Homo sapiens: one gene and its partners. The protein of the gene in region 1 interacts with the protein of each later gene in a biochemical or structural test. Each region holds a gene or a part of one and is shown in the gene's direction. Other genes may lie near its edges.

Region 1 (3,500 bases):
TGAGTTCTTTTACCACTGAATGGTGTTGGCACCCTTATCAAAAATTATTTGACCATATATGTGAGTGTTTATTTCTGGGTTCCCTTTGCAGTCAGCCCTGTCCCTTGACCTGGTTCCAGGCAACCACTGATCTGCTTTCTTTGTTTCTACTGTTTTGCTTTTCTAGGGTTTCATATAAATGGAACCATACAATATGTAGTCTTTTGTGTGACTATTTTTACATAGCATAATGTTTGTGAGAGTTGTCCATGTTGTGTGTATTGGTAGTTGTTTCTTTTGATTGCCGAGTGTTATTCTGTTCTATGAATATATCACAGTTTTGTTTATCCATTAACAAGTTGATGGATGTTTGGGTTCCAGTTTTAATACTGGTGCTATGAATTGCTTCCACGTTTTAGCTATTTTGAATAATGTTGCTATCAACATGGGTATACAGATACCTTGTTGACACCCTGCTTTCAGTTCTTTTGGGGTATATACCCAGAAGTGGAATTGTTGGATCATGTTTTTAATTTTTTTGAGGAACCTCCGTATTGTTTTCCACAGTGGCTGTCCCATTTTATATTCCTACCAACAGTACGTGGGGTTTGATATAGTCACATTCTTCTGTTCGACACTTATTTCCTGTTTTTTTTTTTTTTTTTTTTTTTTTAATTGTAGCCATCCTAATTAGTGTGAGGTGGTATCTAATTGTGGTTTTGATTTGTATTTCCTTAATGATTAGTGATGTTGAGCATCTTATGGCCATTTATATATCTTTGGAGAAAGGTCTGTTTAATCAAGTTCTTTGCCCATTTTTGAATTGGGATTTTTTTTTTGGGGTAAGTTTTAGGAGTTCTTTGTAGATTCCGGGTATTAATCTCTTATCACATACACGATTTGCATATATTTTTTCCTATTTTGTGGGTTGCGTTTTTATTCTGTTGATACTATTTTCTGATGTATAAAATTTTCACAGCTTCATGAAGTTTGTCTATTTTTTGGTGGTTTGGTGTGATATCCAAACAAATTATTGCCAAGTCCACCTGAATCTTTTGCCCTATGTTTTCTGGGAGTTTTAAAGTTTTAGGTCTAACATTTAGACCTTTTATCCATTTTGAGTTAATTTTAGTATATAGTATTAGGTAAGGTTTCATCTTTGTCTTTTGCTTGTGAATATGTCATTTTCTCAGCACCATTTATTGAAGAGTCCTTTTACCACTGAATGGTCTTGGCACCCTTATCAAAAATTATTTGAGCTAGGCTAGGCACGGTGGCTCACACCTGTAATCTTAGCACTTTGGGAGGCTGAGGTGGGCAGATCACCTGAGGTCAGAAGTTTAAGACCAGCCTGGCCAACATGGTGAAACCCTGTGTCTACTAAAAATACAAAAATTAGCCTGGTGCGGTGGTGTGTGCCTATAGTCCCAGCTACTCAGAAGGTGGAGGCAGGAGAGTCTCTTGAACTGGGGAGGTGGAGGTTGCAGTGAGCCGAGATTGTGCCACTGCACTCCAGCCTGGGTGATAGAGTGAGACTCTGTCTAAAAAAAAAAAAAAAAAAGAAAAATCATTTGCCCACATATGTAAGGGTTTATTTCTGGGTTCTCTAGTCTATTCCATTGTCTTATATATCTCCCTATGCCAATACCGCACTGTTTTGATTATTGTAGCCTTGTAGTAAGTTTTGAAATCAGGAAATGGGAGTGCTTCAGCTTTATTCTTTTTCAAGATTATTTTGTCTATTGTCCCTTGTTTCAAGATTACTATCCCTTGTTGGGATTTTGATAGGGATTGCATTGAGTCTGTAGGTTGCTTTGGATAATGTTGACATGTCAACAATATTAAGTCTTCCAGTTCATGAATGTGGGATGTGTTTCCATTTATTTATGTCTTCTTTAATTTCTTTCAGCAGTTTTGAATTTTTTTGTTATCCAAGTCTTTTGCCTCTGATTAAGTTAATTCTAAGTATTTTTATTATTTTGAGTATCGATTAATTCTTGCTAAATTTGTTTTCTAGGCTTTATCAGTTTCAGATACCGGTCTTATATACACGCATTAACTAAATATGTGAACCTCTGTTTGTAGTCATGATGGGCAGTGGATTTTGTCATCTGGGTTTCAGTGAGGTTTTTCTTTCCTTAGATGATTTCACTGTGATTGTTTCTTTACCATATCTGAGATGGAGTCTCACTCTGTCACCCAGACTGGAGTACAGTGATGCCATCTCGGCTCACTGCAACCTCCGCCTTCTGGGTTCACGTGATTCTTCTGCCTCAGCCTTCCAAGTAGCTGGGATTACAGATGTGCACCACCACACCCGGCTAATTTTTATATTTTTAGTAGAGATGAGGCTTCATCATGTTGGCCAGGCTGGTCTTGAACTCCTGACCTCAGGTGATCCGCCTGTCTCGGCCTCCCAAAGTGCTGGGATTACAAGGATTGATTTTTAACCATTTCTGTAGCAAGAGTTTATTATTACATTTATTATTGGGTTTCTAATGGACACAAAGATTGAACACCACAAACTGGTAATAAAAGCAAATAACATAATAGTAAATTCATTGCTGTTCTGAGTGCTTGAAGTTTGTAGAATTAGCTGATTGAGAATATTGCCCACATATTATATTACAAAGCCATACATTTTATTAGATAAGTAAGTTGCTTTTTGAGTAATGACCAGCATGCTTTTAACACTTTGAGGACACCAAGATTCAGTTGCTGAATTCTCTCCAATATTTTTCTTTTTTCTAGGGCAAGAGGATTATGACAGATTACGACCGCTGAGTTATCCACAAACAGATGTATTTCTAGTCTGTTTTTCAGTGGTCTCTCCATCTTCATTTGAAAACGTGAAAGAAAAGGTAAGCTGATCAGATACTCTTGCCCTAAGAAGATCATCTCAGAATTTCTACTGACCTGTTATAAATAGCATTAGAGGCTTGTTGATTAACAAAGGTGTATTTTAAAATACCTTTTTTTAGTGGGTGCCTGAGATAACTCACCACTGTCCAAAGACTCCTTTCTTGCTTGTTGGGACTCAAATTGATCTCAGAGATGACCCCTCTACTATTGAGAAACTTGCCAAGAACAAACAGAAGCCTATCACTCCAGAGACTGCTGAAAAGCTGGCCCGTGACCTGAAGGCTGTCAAGTATGTGGAGTGTTCTGCACTTACACAGGTAAGAATGGCATGAAACCCCATGTGTATTTATGGTCGAGTCATTTATTAGAGCATTAGGATACAGGAGTTATTTCTAACAGTGATCAGCAGTGCTCAAAGATGCCCAGCAAGAATATGAACAGCTTCATATTGTATGTTCTTTTGTTAGAGGCCTCTGTGTTTTTTGGAGAATATTATTAGTTCCTAAACCCCTTGTGTTGGTAAGCTCTCGTATTGTACTGAATGATTCGTAGTGGTCAGGGTTGTGTTAAAACAAAAACCTTACAGGAAAGGTTCAGATAAGCATAAACTTGCAAGAGACGATGTGAATGATTTTTTTTTTTTCTAAACACTTAAATTT
Region 2 (3,500 bases), on another chromosome or scaffold:
CTCCCAAAGTGCTGAGATTACAGGTGTGAGCCACCGCGACCCACCCACAACCTTCTTTTGATCATTTTTCTTTTGAGTTGTTTTGGGGATCTACCTATTCCAGGTACTGCACTTTGATGGTTATATTTGTTGCAAATATATTATTCCTGCTTGTGTGTTGCCTTACATGAAAAATTGTAAAGTCACAGGCCTGCTTATAGCTATTAGAGTCTGAGCTCCTTGAAAGAGCAAGAGATGGATATCCTGATTTGCTCATTTTCTGAGAAGTGCCTTGACTGTCTTACTACTTAGAAAATGCTTGTTAACATTGATGAGAAGTCAATAAAATAAAAACTGTTGGCTGGGCGCTGTGGCTCACGCCTGTAATCCCAGCAGTTTGGGAGGCCGAGACAGGCGGATCACGAGGTCAGGAAATCGAGACCATCCTGGCTAACACGGTGAAACCCCGTCTCTACTAAAAATACAATTAGCCGGGCGTGGCGGCGAGCGCCTGTAATCCCAGCTACTCTGGAGGCTGAGGCAGGAGAATGGCGTGAACCTGGGAGGCGGAGCTTGCAGTGAGCCGAGATCGCGCCACTGCACTCCAGCCTGGGCGACAGAGCGAAACTCTGTCTCAAAAAAACAAACAAACAAAAACTGTCAGAGCGGCGATCAGTAAACATTGATAAGACTAATGGCAAGGTAAGTTACAAAGAAAATGCCTGTTAGAGCTGAATATGCTCACTTCCCTCCCAATCATGTTAAATCCATGGGTTAAAGAGGTAGGAATTTGTTGAGGCAGCCTCAGAGCTTCCTTTTCCTTTTTCCAAGCTATCCCAAGCAAGTCAATCACTTCCAGCGCATTGAAATCATCACCAGACACCTATTCCACTGAGTCTTAGTTTTAAGAGTCCAAAACCCTAGGACCAAGTTTGGAAATCCCCTGGTTTGGCATATTGGGCCCTGAAAGTTACACTTCGCTGAATTTAGCCCAAGAGGCACTTGCCTTGCTAGATGTGGTCAATAATAAAAGCAGGAAGAGAGCTTAAGGTTTAAATGTGCCTTTCTAGTTATTTTAGTTATTTCTAGTTATTCAGATGGTGCAAAAAAGTTGCAGATGCCGGCTGGGCGCGGTGGCTCACGCCTGTAATCCCAGCACTTTGGGAGGCCAAGGCAGGTGGGTCATGAGGTTAGGACATCGAGACCATCCTGGCTAACATGGTGTCTCTACTAAAACAAAAAATACAAAAAATTAGCCGGGCGTGGTGGCACGCGCCTGTAATCCCAGCTATTCGGAGGCTGAGGAAGGAGAATCGCTTGAACCCGGGAGGCAGAAGTTGCTGTAAGCCGAGATGGCGCCACTGCACTCCAGCCTGGGTGACAGAGCAAGACTCCATCTCCCCCGCCCCCACCCCCACCCTGCCAAAAAAGTTGCAGATGCCTTCTCTCCCAGCTCCACCCACTGTTCATGGTAGGGTATGAAGTAGCAGCGCACATTATCAGGAGCAACTGTGGGGGTAAGCGTCCTTTCTCTGGCAATTCGCTCTATGCCCTTGTACGCTGTTGTTTGTATTTCTCACTGTTTGTAAGTCTCACTGTCGCCCAGGCTGGAGTACAGTGGTGTGATCACGGCTCACTGCAACCTCCACCTCCCTGGCTCAAATGATCTTCCCACCTCAGCTTCCTAAGTAGCTGGGACTACAGGCACACACCACTACGCTCAGCTAATTTTTTTTTTTTTTTTTTTTTTGGTAGAAACGGGGTTTCTCCATGTTAGCCAGGCTGGTCTCAAACTCCTGGGCTCAAGCAAGCTGCCTGCCTCGGCTTCCCAAAGTGCTGGGATTACAGGTGTGAGCCACCACGCCCAGCCACTCTCTGTGTTTTTAAATTATTCCAGCTTCACCACTTAATGACTACACACTTGGGTAACTTGCTTCTCTCCTGTGCCTCAGTTTTCTCATCTGTAACATGGGGCTACTCATGGTATTGACCTCATAGGGTGTGTCTCAGTCTATTTTGTGCTGCCATACATAATACTTGGGACTAGGTAGTTAATAAAAAAGAGAAATTGATTTCTCACAGTTCTGGAAGCTGGGAAGTCGAAGATCAAGGTGCTGGCAGGTTTGGCTGTCTGGTGAGAGCTGCATTTGGAGGAATGCTGCGTCCTTACATAGACGGTGGGAGGTAGAAGGTGGAAGGGCAGGTGAGCCCCGTGCTGGGCGAAGCCTCTTTTATGAGGGCCTTAATCCCACTCATGAGGAAGGAGACCCCCTCGCCTAATCACCTATCACAGGCCCCATCTGTTAATCCTCTCACATTGGCAGCACCTGAATTTTGGAGGGGGACACGTTTAAAACATAGCAGGTTGTCCTGACAAAGGAAGAAAGTGCAGGCCGGGCGTGGTTGCTCACACCTATAATCCCAACATTGTAGGAGGCTGAGGCAGGCAAAATTGCCCCAGCCTGGGCAACACGGCTCCAAATTTGACCAGCCTGGGCAACATGGCAAATCCCTGTCTCTACAAAAAAAAAAAAAAAATTAGGTGTGGTGGTGCACACCTGTAGTATCAGCTACTCAGGAGGCTGAGGTGGGAGGATAGCTTGAGCCTGAGAGGTCAAGGCTGCAGTGACCTGAGATCATGCCACTGCATTCCAGCCTGGGCAACAGATCGAGACCCTGTCTCAGAAAGAGAAAAAGAAAAAAAAGGAATGCAAAGCACTTAGGGCAGTGCCTAGCACTAAGGATCCACTAAATACTGTTCTTGCAAATTGAAGCATGCTGCCTCTGACAACCTTGTTAATATAAAAGAGGCCCATTTCCCTTCTACCTGTACCTCTTTGCCATTTCTTATAAAGGAAGCTGAGCTGTTAATAGTTCAATGTGATTGGCCTGGCACGGTGGCTCACACCTGTAATCCTAGCTACTGGGGATGCTGAGGCAGGAGAATCGCTTGAACCTGAGAGGCGGAGGTTGCAGTGAGCCAAGTTCATGCCACTGCACTCCAGCCTGGGCAACAGAGTGAGACTGTCAAAAAAAAAAAAAAGTTTAATGTGATCACTGCACATTTTTCCCCCTCATACCAAGGTGCTGCAAGTCTACATACAAATATATGTCATTTCTTTTTTTCTTTTTTTTTTGTATTTTCTTTTTTCTTCCTTCCCTTCCCTCTCTCCCTTCCTCTCACTTCTTTCATTTTAAATAAAAATGGGTTCATATTCACTTGCTTTTTTATCAGTTAATAATATAGCATGGATATCTTTTTGAGTCACTACATATAGTTAATTCATTTTAATTTTTTTAATTTTTAAAATTTGTTTATTTGAGACAGGGTCTCCCTCTGTCACCCAGGCTGGAGTGCAGTGCGGCGATCACGGATCACTGCAGCCTCAACCTCCTGGGTTCAAGTGATCCTTCCATCTCTCAGCCTCCTGAGTAGTTGGGACTACAGGCATACACCACCATGCCCAGCTAATTTTTGTACGTTTTGTAGAGAAGGGATTTCGCTTTTGTCATGTTGCCCA
Region 3 (3,500 bases), on another chromosome or scaffold:
TCACATATTGGGTTCCTGGAGAGTCCTTGCATCACCAGCTGTCTCCTGAAGGAGTTGAGACAGTTGCTAAACCAGGCCCAAACCAGGCATCTGATGGTGAGATTACCCCATTGGTGGTTCACCCCTAACTAGAATCTTTTTTTTTCTCTGAGAAAGATTTTTGCTGTCACCCAGGCTGGAGGACAGTGGCACAATCATGGCCTACTGCAGCCTCAGCTTCCCTGAGCTCAGATGATCCTCCCACCACAGCCTCCCCAGCAGCTAGTGTGCACCAATATGCCCTGCTAATTTTTGTACTTTTTGTAGAGATGGGGTTTCGCCATGTTACCCAGGCTGGTCTTGAACTCCTAGACCCAAGTGATCCACCCACCTCAGTCTCCCAAAGTGCTGGGATTACAGGTGTGAGATACCATGCCCGGCCCTAACTAGAATCTTGAATTTTTTTGTATGTCATTTAGCAAATGTATGTTAAGTACTTGTGAACAACTAGTTGTCAAAATTCCTGTGAGCTAGCACAGGAGATAAGCAGATGTGTATAATTACCATGCCAGGCATGCATAGACCAAGTGATACCATGTTCAGAAAAGTCTCAGTCTTTTAAGTCTTCCTTTTGCATTTTCTCCCTGATTTCTCATTTTGCAGCTGGAGACTTGCAGTTGGTGGACATGACTGGGTGGAGGTAGAGGGGAGGATTAGAGGCTGTGGCAGTAGAGAAGACAATGAATGTCTGCTGGTGGTGGGAAGCATCCTCTTTCAGTATTTATCCCTCTCAAGTTTCCTTTTAGACAGCAGTGTTTATGACCTTTTGACTGATGTTGTAATCAGAGTGGTCAAAGCAAATACCATGGATAGTTAAGCAGCTGCCATCAGCAGTAGGCTTGGAATGCCCAGCACTCAGTCTCTCATCCTGTGGTTATATTCAGAATCCTACCCAGTCTCATAGATTTCAATATCTTCTGTAGGCCCGTGACCCCCACATTTATATCTCTAGTATAGCCTTCCCCTCAGCTGTAAACTGAAGATATCCAGCTGCCTCCTTGATATTTCTACTTGTGTCCAAAAGGAATCATTAACTTAACCTGTCCAAAATCAACTCCTGCTATGCATCCTAGTCTGCTCTCTGTAAGTAAATGGCATCTCTGTCCTTCTAGTTACTTAAGCCAAATGCCATGCAGTCTTCCTTTATTCTTCTATTTTCTTTCATGCTTACATTAGAATCGATCACCAAATTCTGCTTTATCTGCTTTTGCACTATCTATCTTCAGAGGCTGACTGCTTCTCACTACTTCTATGGCTACTACCCAGGTCCAGGGCACCATCATCTTTCGCCTGACTTCCTACAGTAGCCTCCTGCTGCCTGGTCTCCATATTTACATCCTTACTACCCACTATGTTCTATTCTCAAAACTGTAACTAGGGGGATCCTTTTAAAACATTAAGTGAGGTCAAACTCTGCTCAGATTCTTTCAAAGACTACCTATCTTACTCAAAGTAAAAGCCAAAGTATAATGGCCTGCAAGGCCCTGCACATAGTGTGGAGCATCTGTGGTTCTGTGGTTTTGTATTAGTTGCTCTCTGGATTCCTAACTATTCCTCTAATGCATCAAGTGTGTTTCTCAAGACCTTTGCATTTGCTGCTGTATTTGTTTATAGTATTCGCTTAGATATTCACTTGACTTGTCCCTCACTTCTTGCAGGCCTTGACATAAATTTCACCTTCTCAGTGTGGCCTTTTTTGACCACCTTCCATAAAATAACACCTACCCAATCCTTTTTATCCTGTTTTATTTTTCCTTATATCCCCTACTGCCATTGTGTGTATTGTATATTATTTATTGTCTCCTCCTTCTAGAATCTAAGCTTCAAGCCCTAGCCTTTTGTTGTTGTTACTCTTGTTCTTTACTGGGTGTTGCTTAAACCGTTAGTTTGAATTAAAATATGTAACTGATGGAAACGGTTCTCCCTTAGTCCAGATGATGTATTTTTCATTCCATTTACAGTTTTATTCTGTTGGTGCCTAGAAATGAGAAATTATATGAACTTTTCTTCCTAAAAATGAATATTAAATGATTTGTTTGTCTTAAAAAAATAAAAGTCAGCCAAGTGTGGTGGCATGAGCCTGTAGTACCAGCTGCTTAGGAGGCTGAGGTAAGAGGATCACCAGAGGCCAGGAGTTTCAGGCCAGCCTAGGTGACACAGTGAGACCCTGTCTCTAGGGGAAAAAAAGGAAAAAAAAAAAAGTTGATAATGCTTAATAAAGAAAACTTGGAAAATAGAAAGCCTTTACATACAAAGCTAGTGTTTATGGAGTGCTTACCTGCCAGACACTGTTCTAATAAGCATTTTATGTGGATTCACTCAGCTAAAAAATGACAAATTACCTAAATTTCACTCCCCTTCACAAGGTAACTTGTTTACTTATTTTGGACCTGAAACTTTTTATTGAAGAATAAACTTACAGAAAAGTGCATATATGTATACAGCTGGCCCTCTGTAGTCATAGATTCTCCATCTGTGCATCCAAACTAAAGTATTCGAAAAAAATTTTGTCCATACTGAACATGCACAGACTTATTTTTCTTGTCATTATTCCCTAAACGTTTAGTACTGTGTAACAACTATTTACATAGCATTTACAATGTATTAGGTATTAATAAGTAATATAGAGATGATTTAAAGTATGCAATGATTTAGGTTATATGCAAATGTTATACCATTTTATATCAGGGACTGGAACATCTGCAAATTTTAGTATCCTAGGGAGGTCCTGGAAGCAATCCCCCATGGATACCAAGGGATGACCGTACTTGTGATATCATGATTCAGTGTAGTGAAATTTTAAATATAACTAGCACCTAGATCAAGAAACAGCATGTTAATAATACCCTGACATTTCCCTTGTGTGTCCTTCCAGAAACTACCCCTCCTTTCTCCAAGAGTAACTACTATTCTGACTTATAGCTGCATAGATTGGTTTTGCCTGTTTTTATACTTTATATAAATGGAATCACAAAGAATGTACTCTTGGGTGTGGCTTCTTTTGCTCAACTTTATGTTTGGGAGACCCATTCATACTATTTTATATAGCTGTGGAGAGTTCTTACTGTTACAGAGTGTTCTGTTCAGTGCTCCACAACATCTAGTCTACTGTTGATACACATTTGAGTGGTTTCTAATTTGGGGCTATTACAAACAATGCTGCCACATCATTCTAATGTGTCTTTGGCAAATGTTTATAGGTTATCTGTTGTGTGTATATGTAGGAGTTGGGCCAGAGGATATACATATGTTCCATTTTAGAAAATACTGTCAAATTGGTTTCCAAAGTGGTTTTCTATACTCCCACTTGTAGTGAGGGAGAGTTTTTCATCTTAGCAACTTTGGTGGGTGTGTAGTGGCTTTAATTTGCATCTCCCTGATGATGATTACTGCAATCAAGAGGCTTTTTGCATATTCATTGGCCATTTGGATATCTTTTTGTGAGGTATCTGATCAAGCAT
Region 4 (3,500 bases), about 220 Mb from region 1:
ATTTCTTATATGGATTTTTCTACTCACTACACCATATCGGGGGCAAGAATCTGTATATTCTGATGACTTTTAATTTTTCAGTTCATCTTCTGTGTTGTTACCACGCCACTTATGTATGTGGGTGATTCATTTTAAACTGTGCCCCAAAGTCATTTTCTCTAGATATGACAGGGGAAGTTCTTGTGTTTTGTTGTTGGTTTGCTTTTTAAAAAGATGTGTTTACCCTTTTTAGGTGGTACTACACGAATCTGCAGTCACTGAGAAGACAAATAACAATGGGGTGATGGGAGGCAGTAGGAGGGAGAGGATGCCATCCTGTAAATATGTATTTTTTAACCCATGAATAATCTGCAAAGTTGTTAAGTCAAGTTGGGATTTTGAGAGATCAGACATTTCTTGCCTCCCTAGCCCACACTGAGATAAGTTTTCTTTTTACATTTTTATACAGTGGCCTGATGACTGAGGCTTCCTGGAAATTATTTCTGGGGAAAAATTTCATTCATGGATGGTATTTCAACTTTCCCATTAAGTTGATCAAACAAATGGTGGTCTTAAAGAAAAAGAATATTTTTTCCTTCTTATCTCTCTTCTTTTTCCCTCCTTCCCTCCTGCTGGCCTTCCTCCCTCCCCTTCTTCCTTTCTATTTATGCTTGCTGTGATGTAAGTTCAGTTTGATGGCTGTTTTATTGTTCTTTTGCTTAATTTTAGAGACTCCAGTACTTCACTTATTTGGGAAAAAATTGAAGAGCCATCCATAGATTGTCATGAATTTGAGGAATTATTTTCTAAAACTGCTGTAAAGGAGAGAAAGAAACCTATCTCTGATACTATCTCAAAGACGAAGGCTAAACAAGTGAGTATTTTTGTGCTTTATGAAATTGGACAGTGTTTCTGGCATAAGTGTGAACTGTCATTAGAGAAAACTTTGAAATAGTTTTTGGGCTGTGTAAACCTCCATGGATCTTAGGCAGACAGCAAGGGTTAGAACTTTAGAACATGTGGTTAAGTAAGACTAGCCCAAATAGAACAACACATAATTATCTCCATCCAGTGATAATGTCCCAACTTTTATTTGTAACATCATAATACATATTTCCAAAATATCCGCCATTGTTTCTTTCCAGAATTAGTTGCCTAGAAATAAATTTTCATTTGATTTATGTCCATCTGAGTGCTCCTATGGATGGAAAGAAAGGAAAGAGTGGGCAAAGGAAAACAATCAAGAAATCCAATCCTTAGTAACTGATAATGTGTTTGGTATTTTGTTGCATTATATCTGAAGTGGATGCCATTAGAATCCAGTTAAACAGTCACACTGTACTTGAAATGTGGAAGAGAAATCTTGTATCCATTTCTAACCTCTCTATTTTATGTTAGATCCTTTGATCTAACCTGTGACATTTTTGAGTCATAAAAAGAAAGATTGGTGCATTTCAAGAAAAACATTTCCAAGCAATTTTTTTCTACTGATATATCCATTGGACTTGTCATAAAGGGATATTGTTATAAATTTCTCAGGGGTGTCATTTGGAAAGTAGAGTAAAACCTCATGATAATGAACTCCAGATAGAAAGAATTGCTAATGGTGCCCGTCTTTACCCTGAAATGGAGAGTGGCTACATTTCTTAACTTTTGCAGGGTGGCAGGAAAGAGGTCTTGGAAGCAAAGGAATGGCAAGCAGCTCAGTCTTGGGAAGCAAAGAGGGAAAAATGAGGCTGATATCCCCAGTGTTCTCCTTGCCCAGTAGCCCCATAGGAGTTCCAGCTAATGGGGTGATTCCTCGAATTTGTGCCTCTGACCTGGAAGTAATAGCTAGGCACATGACCTGGAGTTGTTTCCATTGATATTTATTTCAGAGCAGACAATTTTCATTAGATGGACATTGCCAAATCCAGCCAGGAGAAGATGGATTTCAATGGGACAGCTAGACCCCTGTGACCCGTAGTTGGCTGGGTGAGCAGGCTCACCCCAGGCATTTTATTAATCTGAGAATAATGTAAACCCAAACATTATGCAGTTGAATTCTTTTAGAAATGCTTGTTGCATTATCACTGGTTGCTGGTGACCTCAGGTCAGTAACATAGTAAATGAGATGGCACCTGGCACATTGTAGGCACTCAATAAATATTTATTAAATTAATCAGCTGACTAAGGGATGAAGACTTTATAAATATCAGTGGCTATGTCCAGTAGTGATTAAAAACCAGAAGGTTACTCATTTCATAATAATCAGTAAGTCCAGGGTGACAATGTTAAAAGGAGTAATGGAAAATCATATTTTCTCTGGCAGAGATAAATATTTAAAAAATCCTTGGTATATTTGCATATAGTACACTGAGGCTGAATCATCGTATCTCCTCTTTTGGGTTGTGTCAGAGATGTAAAATCTGTCTGGGCGAGGAATATGGGTGGGGCTTACATTGAGAAGAGTCAGGCAGCCGGAACTGTCACATGACAAACGTGTAGATGTGGCATGGAGCCTCTCTCGTCCAGGGACCAAATACTCAGAAAATTGAGCCATGCTCTCCTTACTTCCAGCACCCCTTTTGTTTTTTTGTGTTTTTTTGTTTGTTTGTTTTTGTTTGTTTGTTTTTTTGGCTAAGGGAATACAGATAAGGAAGAAGTCTCCCAGGTTGCCCAAGACTGTAGGATTTCATTCTCTGTTTGACATAGTATTAAGTTTTAGCTTACTGAAATATGATTTACATGTAAATCATCAAACTTCACATTAAACTAGTTGGCATGAAGGGGTCTCAGCATATAAACAGTGCCTCTGTGTTGAGCATCATCATCTTAAGATAATCTCCTCATTCTGTCATTAAGGCATTTCATAAATTGTCGGTAAGAGACTTTGCCAATATCCTCATTTGTGTTTATTGATAGTGACGCTACTGTTGACCTTCAGCTTCAAACAGGGTTTATGGGACAGTCTCCATCATGACTCCAGATAAACCTATTCAGCAACTCCTTGGCCTGGGTCTTGGTGCTGAGCTCTGCACTTCAGATCTGTTTTTGGAGGGACAAAAGATTTTTTTAAATGTATGTTAGAGAAAAATCACTACAAAGTGATGGATTGCTGAAGAAACATAGTTTTATTTAACTTCATTGTATTTGGAAGAAAAATCTGTCCATTCCATTTACTTGAGACATTTAAAATTTTGTTTAAGGAAAGTGTATTTTCAGGATGCATGCAAATTGTTCCCCTTTTTATGGGAAATGTGCACTGATTGTATGTGCAGACATTTTGGTACCTTATGATTCATTTCCAGTAAAATTAATAGCCTTTAATGCCGTGGCATATGTTTATGGAGGTATTTCAAGCAATTCTTCTTATATACAATGGAAGCTGGAAGTTCTGTTTTTGTTTAAATATTTAAAAATAGCCAAATAATTTTTCTGTGATCTCTGTTCTCCTTGAAAGTAAGACTGTGGTTGAATGCACTGGTGTTTAACGAGGTGCCTGTGCTGTTTTTACCGTCATGGCAGAGACGTTTTCAGTG
Region 5 (4,008 bases), on another chromosome or scaffold:
ATATGGTAGGCAAATATTTTCTATTATTCAGTACTGTATTAGTCCATTTTCACACTGCCTAAACCCTCCTGTGACAACCTGAGACTGGGTAATTTATAAACAAAAGAGGTTTAATTGACTCACAGTTCCGCATGGCTAGGGAGCCCTCAGGAAACTTACAATCATAGAGGAAGGCAAAGGCGAAGCAAGGCACGTCTTGCTTGCAGCAGGAGAGAGAGCGATCAAAGGAGGAACTATCACAGATTTTTAAACCATGAGATCTCCTGAGAGCTCACTATCATGAGAACGGCTTGGGGAAAACCACCCCCATGATCCAGTCACCTCCCACCAGGTCCCTCCCTCAACACCTGAGGTTTATACTTGAAAATGAGATTTGATGGGGACACTGAGCCAAACCATATCAAATACCTTTTCTTTCATCGTCTGAAGGTCTTTCACAGACCAAAAGTTTTTAATTTGGTAAATACCAGTTGATTTTTTTTTTCTTTAATGAATCATGCTTTTGCTGCTATGGCTAAGAATTTTTGAACAAGCTCTTGATTCTTACGATTTTATTGTGAGTAATTTTTTCTTTCAGTCTCCTACAGGATACCATTTTATGGTTTGATATTTTACATTTAGGCTATGGTCAATGTTGAACTAATGTCTGTACGGTTGTGAAGTTTGAGTAGAGATGACTTCTTTCCTGCTGTGGATATTAAGTTAGCCCCTCACCAGTTTTTAAAAATTCTTCATTCAATTCCCTTGGTAACTTTGTCAAAAATCAGTTGGAAGTACCTGTAGAGGCTATTTTTGTACTCTCTTACTGTATTGCATCAATCCATATGTCTTTTATTGCCCCAAAACCACACAGTTTTTATTACCTTTCCTATATTGGTAGTCTTGAAATCCAGTGGAGTGATTCCAGACACTTCATTTTTGTTTTTTGGTAACTTTTATGGATCCAATCACTGCTAGTTTTGGATTCCCCACCGAAATCCCAGTTCCCGGACTGCTAAGCTGCAGGAGACTCCCTAGCAGGATCGGGTCCAACCTGCAGGCAAAATAGTTTTAACATAAACCGTTTTCAACTTGGTAAGTGGAAAACATTTTGGTTTCCACCATAAGTGGCCCACACAACTCTGATTTTTTTACCTTAAAGCGGCGCAGACCCCGCCCACTCCAGCCATTCCTTCAGGCTGCCCGGGCTCTTCTCTCCGCGCATGCGCAGTTTCCTACAGGCCCGGAAACGGATCGCGTTGGGTGAAGGTGACGGCGTCGAGCGTGAGTGACCCTCTGTGTAGATTAAACCTGCGCTCCCTGTTTCCCATTTCCACAGCCGATGTCCAGGGTCGATACGGCCCTTAAAATCCCCGTACACTCCACCCCAGGTGAATACAGGCCTCGCAGTGTGGGTCCGGAGTCGCTTCCCTTTGGGTTGAAGTCGCTTTGAGGCTGCTCCCCGTCCCCGGCCTTTTGCTTCTTCCTCCCGCTTAAAACCTTTTCCTGACCCCCTCCCCCATCCCCGGGCTTTTTAAAGTCTTCACCCAAGAGGTGTATTCCCGTCCTGGGTGCCTCCCAGCCTTGCCCTCGTCGGCCCCTGGAGCGCAGCGCCGCAGCTGCAGCCGCAGTCCCGGGGAGCCTTGCGTCCTCTGCCTGGTCCTGGGATCCTGCAGACCCCACCCCTGTCTGAAGGCGCTGTCGCGCCCCACCTCCCTCCTCCTCGTGCCGGGCCCCGCTGCTCCCCAGGCCTCCCCTGAGCCCGCGCTGGGGAGGTGCTCAGGGCCTGTCCTGTGACACCCGATGTTCTTGCCTGCCCTCCTCCACCCCGTGGAAAATGCGCTCCTCCAGGATGCAGGCGTCTTACCCCAAACCGTCCTGTGAATGTGTGGGCCAAAGGGATCGAGGGACAGAGAGAGCAGTAGAAAACCTGAGACAGGAAGGAATGAGGCAAACCAATAAACAGATGGCAAAGTAGAGGATGGTTAGAGATTTTCAGAGACAGTAAGAGTGGAAGAAGAAGCCGAGAAAGTAGCAGGGAGAGAAAAGTAACTAGACACATTTCGAGAAAAAGCACAGTATCCAGAGAGATGAAGGACAGCCAGGTAGGGAGAGGGGCAGCAAAGGAGGAGGCTCCTCAGACAGAGAGTGGGGGAGAGCAGAAGGGATTTGGAGCCAGGGCAGACAGGGCAGTGTGGTACCGGGACAGCAAGAGGGGGCAGCCGATGACAAGGAGAAGCAGAGGGAGAACCACAGCACGGGGAGGCCTGGGATCTGGGGGTGCCAAAGAGTGGGGACAACGGTGTGTAACAGGGAAGAGGGAATTTAACAGGGAGTGCTGAAATGGGGAAGAAAGAGCCAGAAATATGTGGAGACTGGGACAATGAAAAGATTAGGAAGAAAGAGGAATTAAATACATTGCAAGAATGGAAAGAGCAAGTGGAAGAGAAAGAATAGAGGGAAGACGGGGAGGAGCAGCAGGAGAGGAGAGGGGCTCAAAATGAGCAGAATCCTAGGGAGAAAATAAAGGGGAAGGAAAGAGCTAGAGAAAGAAGGTGAGAATGAGAGCGATGTACGGAACGAGGGAGGGAAACACACCATAATGAGGAAAGAGGGGGACCCCAGGTCCAGGTGAGTTGTGAACTGACTGGATGTGATGACTACCTTTTGACCTGTTGATTTCTGTCTTTATAAGTTTAAAATGCACAGATGATGAGAATTGCAAAGCTCCTGTCTATTAAGGCTGGTGCATTTTATAATTATGGCATCAGAAGTTAGCTTCCACTTGCAATCCCTGTTAAGGCAGAGGGAAGTGACTTGACTCATTAATTCCACAGGTCATCCTCTTCCCCTTCCCTGGCGTTGGGGCAGGGGGAGGGGAAGGGGGAGTGGGAGAGTAAAGCTGGGCAGAAAGTGAAAGACTGTCACTACATAGTGTCTCTCTAAAGCAGGGGTGTCCAATCTTTTGGCTTCCCTGGGCCACATTGGAAGAAGAATTGTCTTGGGCCACACATAAAGTACACTAACACTAACAATAGCTGATGAGCTAAAAAAAAAAAAAAAAAAAAAAAAAAAAGTTGCAAGAAAATCTCAAAATGTTTTAAGGAAGTTTAGGAATTTGTGTTGGGCTGCATTCAAAGCCTTCCTGGGCTGCGGATTGGACAACGTTGCTCAAAAGGAACATTAAAAGTGTTGAGGCTGGGCATGGTGGCTCATGCCTGTAATCCCAGCACTTTGGGAGGCCGAGGTGGGTGAATCACAAGGTCAGTAGTTCAAGACCAGCCTGGCAAAGATGGTGAAACCCCATCTCTACTAAAAATACAAAACTTAGCCAGGTATGGTGACACGCATCTGTAATCCCAGCTACTCAGGAGGCTGAGGCAAAGCATTGTGTAAACCCGGGAGGCGGAGGTTGCAGTGAGCCAAGAGCCGAGATCCGGTGACAGAGCAAGACTGCGTCTGAAAAAAAAACAAAGAACAAACAAAAAAAGTGTTGTTGCTTTTTGTAATTGATTTGCTTTTTTTCTTACTAATTCCCTTTCATCTCATGTATAGTTCATTTTGCAACTTGAGATAGATCTTCATTAATTCAGTTTCTATTTTTCTGTATATAATTATTTCCAAAGTAACTTTGGTGGCATCCTATAATCAGCTCATGGCATTTTCTAAATATAATGTGTTTTCAATTTTTTTAGCTCCAAAATTCATCAGATATTTCTTAACAATTTCAAAATCTTTCCCTTTGAAATTAATTGTGTCCAGTTTTGATAGAGGTCTGCATGCTTTCTGCTCTTTATTATATAATAGAAGCATTATTTGTTGACTAGTAGGTAATTTTAGATTGTTTCAATGTGTACCTGATAAAGATGTCAATGATGTTTTTACCTTAACATGGAAACCTAGTTTAACTAGTCTATTATTCAATTTTCTTCTTTTGTGTAATTTGTTAAAATAGTAAGCTGTGAGCTGCATTTGGAACCAATGTGATAAAACCTTGAAGAAGTTTCTTTTGCTCAGATATGTGAAAGA
Region 6 (2,650 bases), on another chromosome or scaffold:
TCACCATGTTTGCCAGGCTGGTCTCAAACTCCTGACCTCAGGTGATCCACCCACCTTGGCTTCCCAAAGTGTTGGGATTACAGGCGTGAGCCACCACGCCTGGCCAATACTTTTCTTAGAGATAGACTATTTTTGCCTATTCTTTTGATAATTTGAATAGTACAGAATCAGTTCATGTTTGTTTTCTTCGTGCACTTAGGGTTTCTTGAATTCCTCTGAGCTTTCTGGACTTCCAGCTGGGCCTGACAGAGAAGGCTCACTCAAGGATCAGTTGGCTTTAGCAATTGGTGAGTATTTGTAAAGGTTCTGGAAACTGGAAATTAGGGACTGGATCTCTTGTTATCTTGTTCCTCCAAATCTAGGTCAAGAATCATGTGCCTACAAGGGTCAGATGATACGAACGTGAGAAGTGGTGTGTGTGTTAGATGTTAGGGAACATTAGGCATCTTTTTTTTTTCCGAGACAGAGTCTTGCTCTGTTGCCCAGGCTGGAGTGCAGTGGCGCAATCTCGGCTCACTGCAAGCTCCGCCTCCCAGGTTCCTGCCTCAGCCTCAGCCTCCCGAGTAGCTGGGACTACAGGCGCCTGCCATCACGCCTGGCTAATTTTTTGTATTTTTAGTAGAGACAGGGTTTCACCGTGTTAGCCAGGATGGTCTTGATCTCCTGACCTCGTGATCCGCCCGCCTCGGCCTCCCAAAGTGCTGGGATTACAGGCGTGAGCCACCGCGCCCGGCCACATTAGGCATCTTAAAGAGCTCATACGCTGCTGGAGGAAGTCCCATTGCCAAGCTGTAACCAATTGTTATATCTAGGGAAACGGAGTCCTGGGGTCATCAGAATTTCTAAATTCCTTAAAAGAATTTAGATTTGTATCCAAAATCTCACGGATTTTGGCTGTTTGCAACTAATTAAAATTATTTTCATCACTGTGCCAACAAAACAAAGCATGTCTTTAGGCAGAGATGGCCTTTTGACTTCCAGCTGAGTACTTGAGTATATGCTGTAGGGAAAATAGTACATTAAAGATTATTTCCTCTTCTTTATAAAAGGTGGCAGGACAATTGAGGAGCATTGTTTTTAGGAATTTGATCTTTCTTTTCAAAAAATCTGGTTGTGAATTTGTAAAGATACATTCTTTTAGAGCCTGTTGGCTATAGGAACCACATCTGGATCATTGTGGTGGGACTAGCATCTTGCTTTCTTCCTAAGTATCCTTGATGGAGGGTGGGTGGTAGGGAAGGGTTGGAGCTTGCTGGGAATTTACTAATCTGAAGTTTCCAGTCAAGGCATCAGTTCCGTTTTTATCAGGTCATCTTGTATTATCTATGATGTTTCAATGAGTCATGGGTGAGAAACCAGGCAGACAGCTATGTATGAGGCTTATTAAGAAATTCTGGAAGAGCTGGGTGTTTCAGCCTTGTCAGTTTCTGGGAATTAACTATTGGGTATATGCTTTGAGCTATTTTAAAATTTGTTTTGGTTTCTGGATTCTCCTTTTTCATGACTTTTAGATATGACTATGGCTAATCCAGGCATACTTATACAGACCCTTTTGTTTATTCTCCTACCCCTTTTTACCTTTTGGCTTATTTGGACTTCTGTTAGAAGAGAATAACATCCTGAGAGAAAGGGGAAAAATAAGTTAAAATCTGTTTCTGGTTCTCATAAATAACTCTTGACAATGTTATCTTTTCTGTTTTTGATGAGAGGAAATTGAAACTATCCGATGACATGGTGCTTTGAGCTGTGGACTTTTTCCGGATAGAAGGGATGATCAGGAGTTGTCTGTGTCAGTTATGGAGTATTCAGGATGGTGGGAAAAAGCACCTAATTGCTTTGGAGTCAGATCTGAGTTTTAATTCTAACTCTGCCTTGTGTTACTAGGTGGGTTACCTAAGTTCTCTAAGCCTAAGCTTATTGTAATAGTAGCTAGCATTTGAGTGCTATGTGCCAGATACTATAGTTAATGCTTTATTTATTTATTTATTTTTGAGACGGAGTCTTGCTCTGTTGCCCAGGCTGGAGTGCAGTGGCACAATCTCGGCTCACTGCAAGCTCTGCCTCCCGGGCTCACGCCATTCTCCTGCCTTAGCCTCCTGAGTAGCTGGGACTGTAGGTGCCCGCCAGCACGCCCGGCTAATTTTTTGTATTTTTAGTAGAGACGGGGTTTCACCGTGTTAGCCAGGATGGTATCGATCTCCTGACCTTGTGATCCGCCCACCTCGGCCTCCCAAAGTGCTGGGATTACAGGCGTGAGCCACCGCACCCAGCCCTAGTTAATGCTCCATATATATATATATATGTATATATATATATAAATTTTTTTTTTTGAGATGGAGTTTTGCTCTTGTTGCCCAGGCTGGAGTGCAATGGCATGATCTCGCTCGCTGTAACCTCTGCTGCCCAGGTTCAAGCAATTCCTCTGCCTCAGCCTCCCGAGTAGCTGGGATTACAGGCATGTGCCACCATGCCTGGCTAATTTTTTGTATTTTTAGTAGAGACGGGGTTTCTCCATGTTGGTCAGGCTGGTCTCAAACTCACAACCTCAGGTGATCTGCCTGCCTCGGCCTTCCAAAGTGCTGGGATTACAGGCGTGAGCCACCACGGCTGGCTGCTTTTACATATATTATTTATTTCTCCCCAAAACCCT
Region 7 (3,500 bases), on another chromosome or scaffold:
CTCCCTTCTCCTGGGCTCTAGATCAGCATCTCAAATCTCCTAGACATCAACACCAGAGTTACCAAAGGTCCCTCAACTGCAAAAGGCTCAAATCAAAATCAAGCTTAAAAAATAAAATAAAATAAAATAAAAAAACTTGTTCCTCCACTTGTAGCATGTAAGTTAATGGTACCAGTCATCTGGTTGTTGAGGTGAGAAACCTGTAACCCTGCCTCTGCATCACCTCTGCCTTTAATCAATTACCAAGTTCTTTCCTTTCTATCATCTATCTTATGGACCCTGGACCCACTGCTTCCCTGAATCACCAGCTCTCACTTCAGAGTCCAAGAAGGACACATCTAATCGCTGTCTAGGCCAAGTGCCAAGACTTGTGCCCAGTCTCCAAGCGGCTGGGAAAGAAAATACTTGGAGATTTCACATCCCATTACAAGTGAGTTCAGTTTCTCACTGAGCCTCAGAATATGAGGAATTCTCCAAAATGAAGACGTCCAGATGACAGCAACACCAAACGTGAAACCATGATAAATGTGTGCACCCCCTGGATTACTGCACAAGCCTTCTCACGGACCGCCCTACTGTCAGTCTTGTCTTCCTCTTTCCCTACCTCTGTCCCGGATCCAGACTGCAATCAGTTATCTCTCAAAAATGTAAGTCTGGTGATGTTTCTCAAGGACTTAACACTCTTCCTTGCCTACTGACTACCCATAACATAAAATGCAAGTTCTCTGCATGGCTCCAGGCCCTCTCTGACCTAACTCCTGCTTTCTAGCCTTATCTCTGGTTATTTTCCCATCTCCAGATAGATTTCTGTTTAGCTGAAATGCTTAGTAGAATTACCTGAGTCTGCCATGTGCTCTCTGGGATCCAAGTCTTAAAATACATATTTGCCAGTATCCTCTTCACCTCCCCGCTCTTCCTCATCCCTCACACATCATTCTTTCAGCTTTCTCTCTTTCACAAAGGTTTCCTGATCCTGACCTTGCTGTTGCTTCTAGGTGCTATCACAGCACTTTGTTTTTCTATACCACTGCAGGATGACTATAGCTAACAATAACATACTCTATAGTTTCAAATGGCTAGAAGGAAGATGTTGAATGTTCCCAACACAAAGAAATCATAAATGTTAGAGATGAATATGCTAGTTGCCCTGATCTGATCACTATAAATTGTACGTATTGAAACATCACTAGGTACCCCATAATTATGTATAATTATTATTTGTCAATTTAAAAAATAAAATACAATTTAAAAAAAGACATACTCAATTATATAAGCTTATTATTTAGTTGTAATTTGTATTAAGTTCCATGAGGGCAAAAACCTTCTCTTTTTCAAGGTCATATCCCCGTCCCTAGCGCACTACCAGGCATGTGGTAGATAGTCCATAAATACACTTCGAGTGGGTAATTCTGGTCCATGTAGTACATCTATCCCAGCTTAGGCTTCACAATTTCGTCATGTCAAGAATCAAAGGTTTTGTTGCAATTATTTCCTTGGATTTTCAGCTTAATCTACCACAGGTTTGGTTGACACAAAATGTTTTTCAATCTCCTTTAGCACTGATTTCAACACAAAAACTGAATTTCTTTCAGGCCATAATAAATAAATAAATAACAAATAAAAAACACAGTAGCTTTCTTTCAAAGAAAAATAAATTTTACAAGAAATGCAATAAATGAAAATATAGTCTGTTGTGCCTTTGGTACACAAACCTACTTTCAGCCCCCGAGTCTCCCCCTCTCCACCTTCATGTCTCTTCTGGATCCATGTTACCTAATGGCTCATCTCCCCACACCTTGTAAGAGTTGATCCTGATCCTGGCTTCCCCTAAAGTTATCTACCATGTGTGCTGACTGAGGGGCCAATTGTACTTCAGAGCTCATTACTGAGAGAAACCAGGCTGCCTTGGTAGGACAAACTATAAAACGTTTTGCAATATACAAAATGGTACTGGGTGTCCTTGCAATAGACACCCAGTACCATTGCTGGATTGGCTCTGGTGGACGTTCCAGGGTCATCTAATTCCACAGGGGTCTATGCCTTTTATTGTCTTTACAATTTTACAACTCTGTAAGTTGGAAAAATCTAAAAACAATGCAAATTATACTGGTGCATAGATATACAAATGATTTTTTTTCTAGTAGAAATGCTATAGTTTTCCACTCTTATGATTCCAAACATTGTATTTTATTGCTCTATAGATATTAACCAGTTTCAAATCTATTACCAACTTCATATCAGCATGCCTGATTGCCTACATGTGTCTCATCTTCAGCGTCTCCTTTGAAATAATTGTAATATATTACTGATTTTTTCAATTGTTAAATAAAAGCTCAAATACATGTTATTTGATTTTTATATATTACTATACCTTTGCCTTTTCAAAATCATACTTTAACTGCCTGTTTCTCATGAAGAAAATACATTCAAGTATTAAAAATACACTGAATATAATTGTTCCTCATATACGAGCCATATCTGAATAACTGGAGACCAGTCAGGATGTTTCTATCCTGCAGCACAGACTGGACAAAGGAATTAGAGTGATATTTGGGTTAGTAAAGTCAGGGAGAATGATGACACCCTCTGAAGGATTAAGGATTTACTTGAAGAAGAGTGCGAAATATGGTTCAGTAGATAGAGTAGGGCTAGCATGTGGTGAATCTAATAATTCAGGCACAAAAAAAGTAACTATCTTTCTAAGAAGACATGTAAGACAAAAGTACAGTATTCCACTTAAGAAGATGGGGTATGTTAACATTGAGTTTCAGGATCTCTGATTAACTACCCTCTGTTAAACAGCAGGTCTATGACTCACTGCATCCAGTGAAGCAGTAGGCTCTTGAGCTGGATTTCTACAACCCCCTCGACTCTTGCATAATGTATTTTGAAATTAGAGATTTTCTTAGATGGGAAGATACTTCTACGCAAGCAACTCAATTCAGTCCTCTGAAGACACACCATTTCTGGGGAATGTCCCACCAAGTTTACTCCTGACTGACACAAGGTAGAAAGTTGAGGTTCACCACATCCAGGAAGCTTCCATTATTCACTCCTAGACTCAGTCTTGTGGCAGACATCACCGCTGATGTTTTCTAGATCGTCCCTCTCAGTACTCTATGAACAATATATAGCAAAAGAATGGCACACTTAGAGTAACAAGGAGTCATTGCTTCACAATATAAAGTTCAAAATGTCAGTGGAATTTAAAGCTGTAATAGCTTACAGATAATGAAATACCTTTTATTTAATTCTGCTGATATTCCCATGTAAGTGTTCTATGCCAGGCCTCTAGTTATCTCATGCCCTTTAAGATTAGATTAGACTCTCATAGCCCCCAGGTTTTTCTCACTTTCCTTAAAAGCCTTATCAAAATTTTATATTATTAACATATTATTTGTTTAATATCTTCTCTATCTCCTCCACTTTACTACCTCCCATGACTTTTAACTCCTTGAACATGATAACTGTGCTGTAAGTCTGGATGAAGGGTCAGCAAA

What was found.
Region 2: the proteins of CDC42 (region 1) and NQO1 form a complex in vitro, tested with the Homo sapiens proteins (one large-scale study listed by BioGRID).
Region 3: the proteins of CDC42 (region 1) and ZNF622 form a complex in vitro, tested with the Homo sapiens proteins (one large-scale study listed by BioGRID).
Region 4: the proteins of CDC42 (region 1) and FMN2 form a complex in vitro, tested with the Homo sapiens proteins (one study listed by BioGRID).
Region 5: the proteins of CDC42 (region 1) and ZNF415 form a complex in vitro, tested with the Homo sapiens proteins (one large-scale study listed by BioGRID).
Region 6: the proteins of CDC42 (region 1) and TSFM form a complex in vitro, tested with the Homo sapiens proteins (one large-scale study listed by BioGRID).
Region 7: the proteins of CDC42 (region 1) and PALLD form a complex in vitro, tested with the Homo sapiens proteins (one large-scale study listed by BioGRID).

The regions. Positions count from the first base shown.
Region 1 is NC_000001.11:22,083,709-22,087,208, forward strand, and holds part of CDC42 (cell division control protein 42 homolog isoform 1 precursor), read left to right. Parts: intron 1-2,730; coding exon 2,731-2,840; intron 2,841-2,960; coding exon 2,961-3,158; intron 3,159-3,500. UniProt on the Homo sapiens protein: Plasma membrane-associated small GTPase which cycles between an active GTP-bound and an inactive GDP-bound state. In active state binds to a variety of effector proteins to regulate cellular responses. Involved in epithelial cell polarization processes.
Region 2 is NC_000016.10:69,720,061-69,723,560, reverse strand, and holds part of NQO1 (NAD(P)H dehydrogenase [quinone] 1), read left to right. Parts: intron 1-3,500. UniProt on the Homo sapiens protein: Flavin-containing quinone reductase that catalyzes two-electron reduction of quinones to hydroquinones using either NADH or NADPH as electron donors.
Region 3 is NC_000005.10:16,459,301-16,462,800, reverse strand, and holds part of ZNF622 (cytoplasmic 60S subunit biogenesis factor ZNF622), read left to right. Parts: intron 1-3,500. UniProt on the Homo sapiens protein: Pre-60S-associated cytoplasmic factor involved in the cytoplasmic maturation of the 60S subunit.
Region 4 is NC_000001.11:240,210,383-240,213,882, forward strand, and holds part of FMN2 (formin-2), read left to right. Parts: intron 1-708; coding exon 709-853; intron 854-3,500. UniProt on the Homo sapiens protein: Actin-binding protein that is involved in actin cytoskeleton assembly and reorganization. Acts as an actin nucleation factor and promotes assembly of actin filaments together with SPIRE1 and SPIRE2.
Region 5 is NC_000019.10:53,130,111-53,134,118, reverse strand, and holds the start of ZNF415 (zinc finger protein 415), read left to right. Parts: upstream 1-1,208; 5' UTR 1,209-1,263; exon of another isoform or gene 1,264-1,321; coding exon of another isoform or gene 1,322-1,370; intron 1,371-4,008. UniProt on the Homo sapiens protein: Involved in transcriptional regulation. Transcriptional activity differed among the various isoforms. All isoforms except isoform 3 seem to suppresses the transcriptional activities of AP-1 and p53/TP53.
Region 6 is NC_000012.12:57,792,787-57,795,436, forward strand, and holds part of TSFM (elongation factor Ts, mitochondrial isoform 2 precursor), read left to right. Parts: intron 1-199; coding exon 200-287; intron 288-2,650. UniProt on the Homo sapiens protein: Associates with the EF-Tu.GDP complex and induces the exchange of GDP to GTP. It remains bound to the aminoacyl-tRNA.EF-Tu.GTP complex up to the GTP hydrolysis stage on the ribosome.
Region 7 is NC_000004.12:168,507,052-168,510,551, forward strand, and holds part of PALLD (palladin), read left to right. Parts: intron 1-308; exon of another isoform or gene 309-525; coding exon of another isoform or gene 526-647; intron 648-3,500. UniProt on the Homo sapiens protein: Cytoskeletal protein required for organization of normal actin cytoskeleton. Roles in establishing cell morphology, motility, cell adhesion and cell-extracellular matrix interactions in a variety of cell types.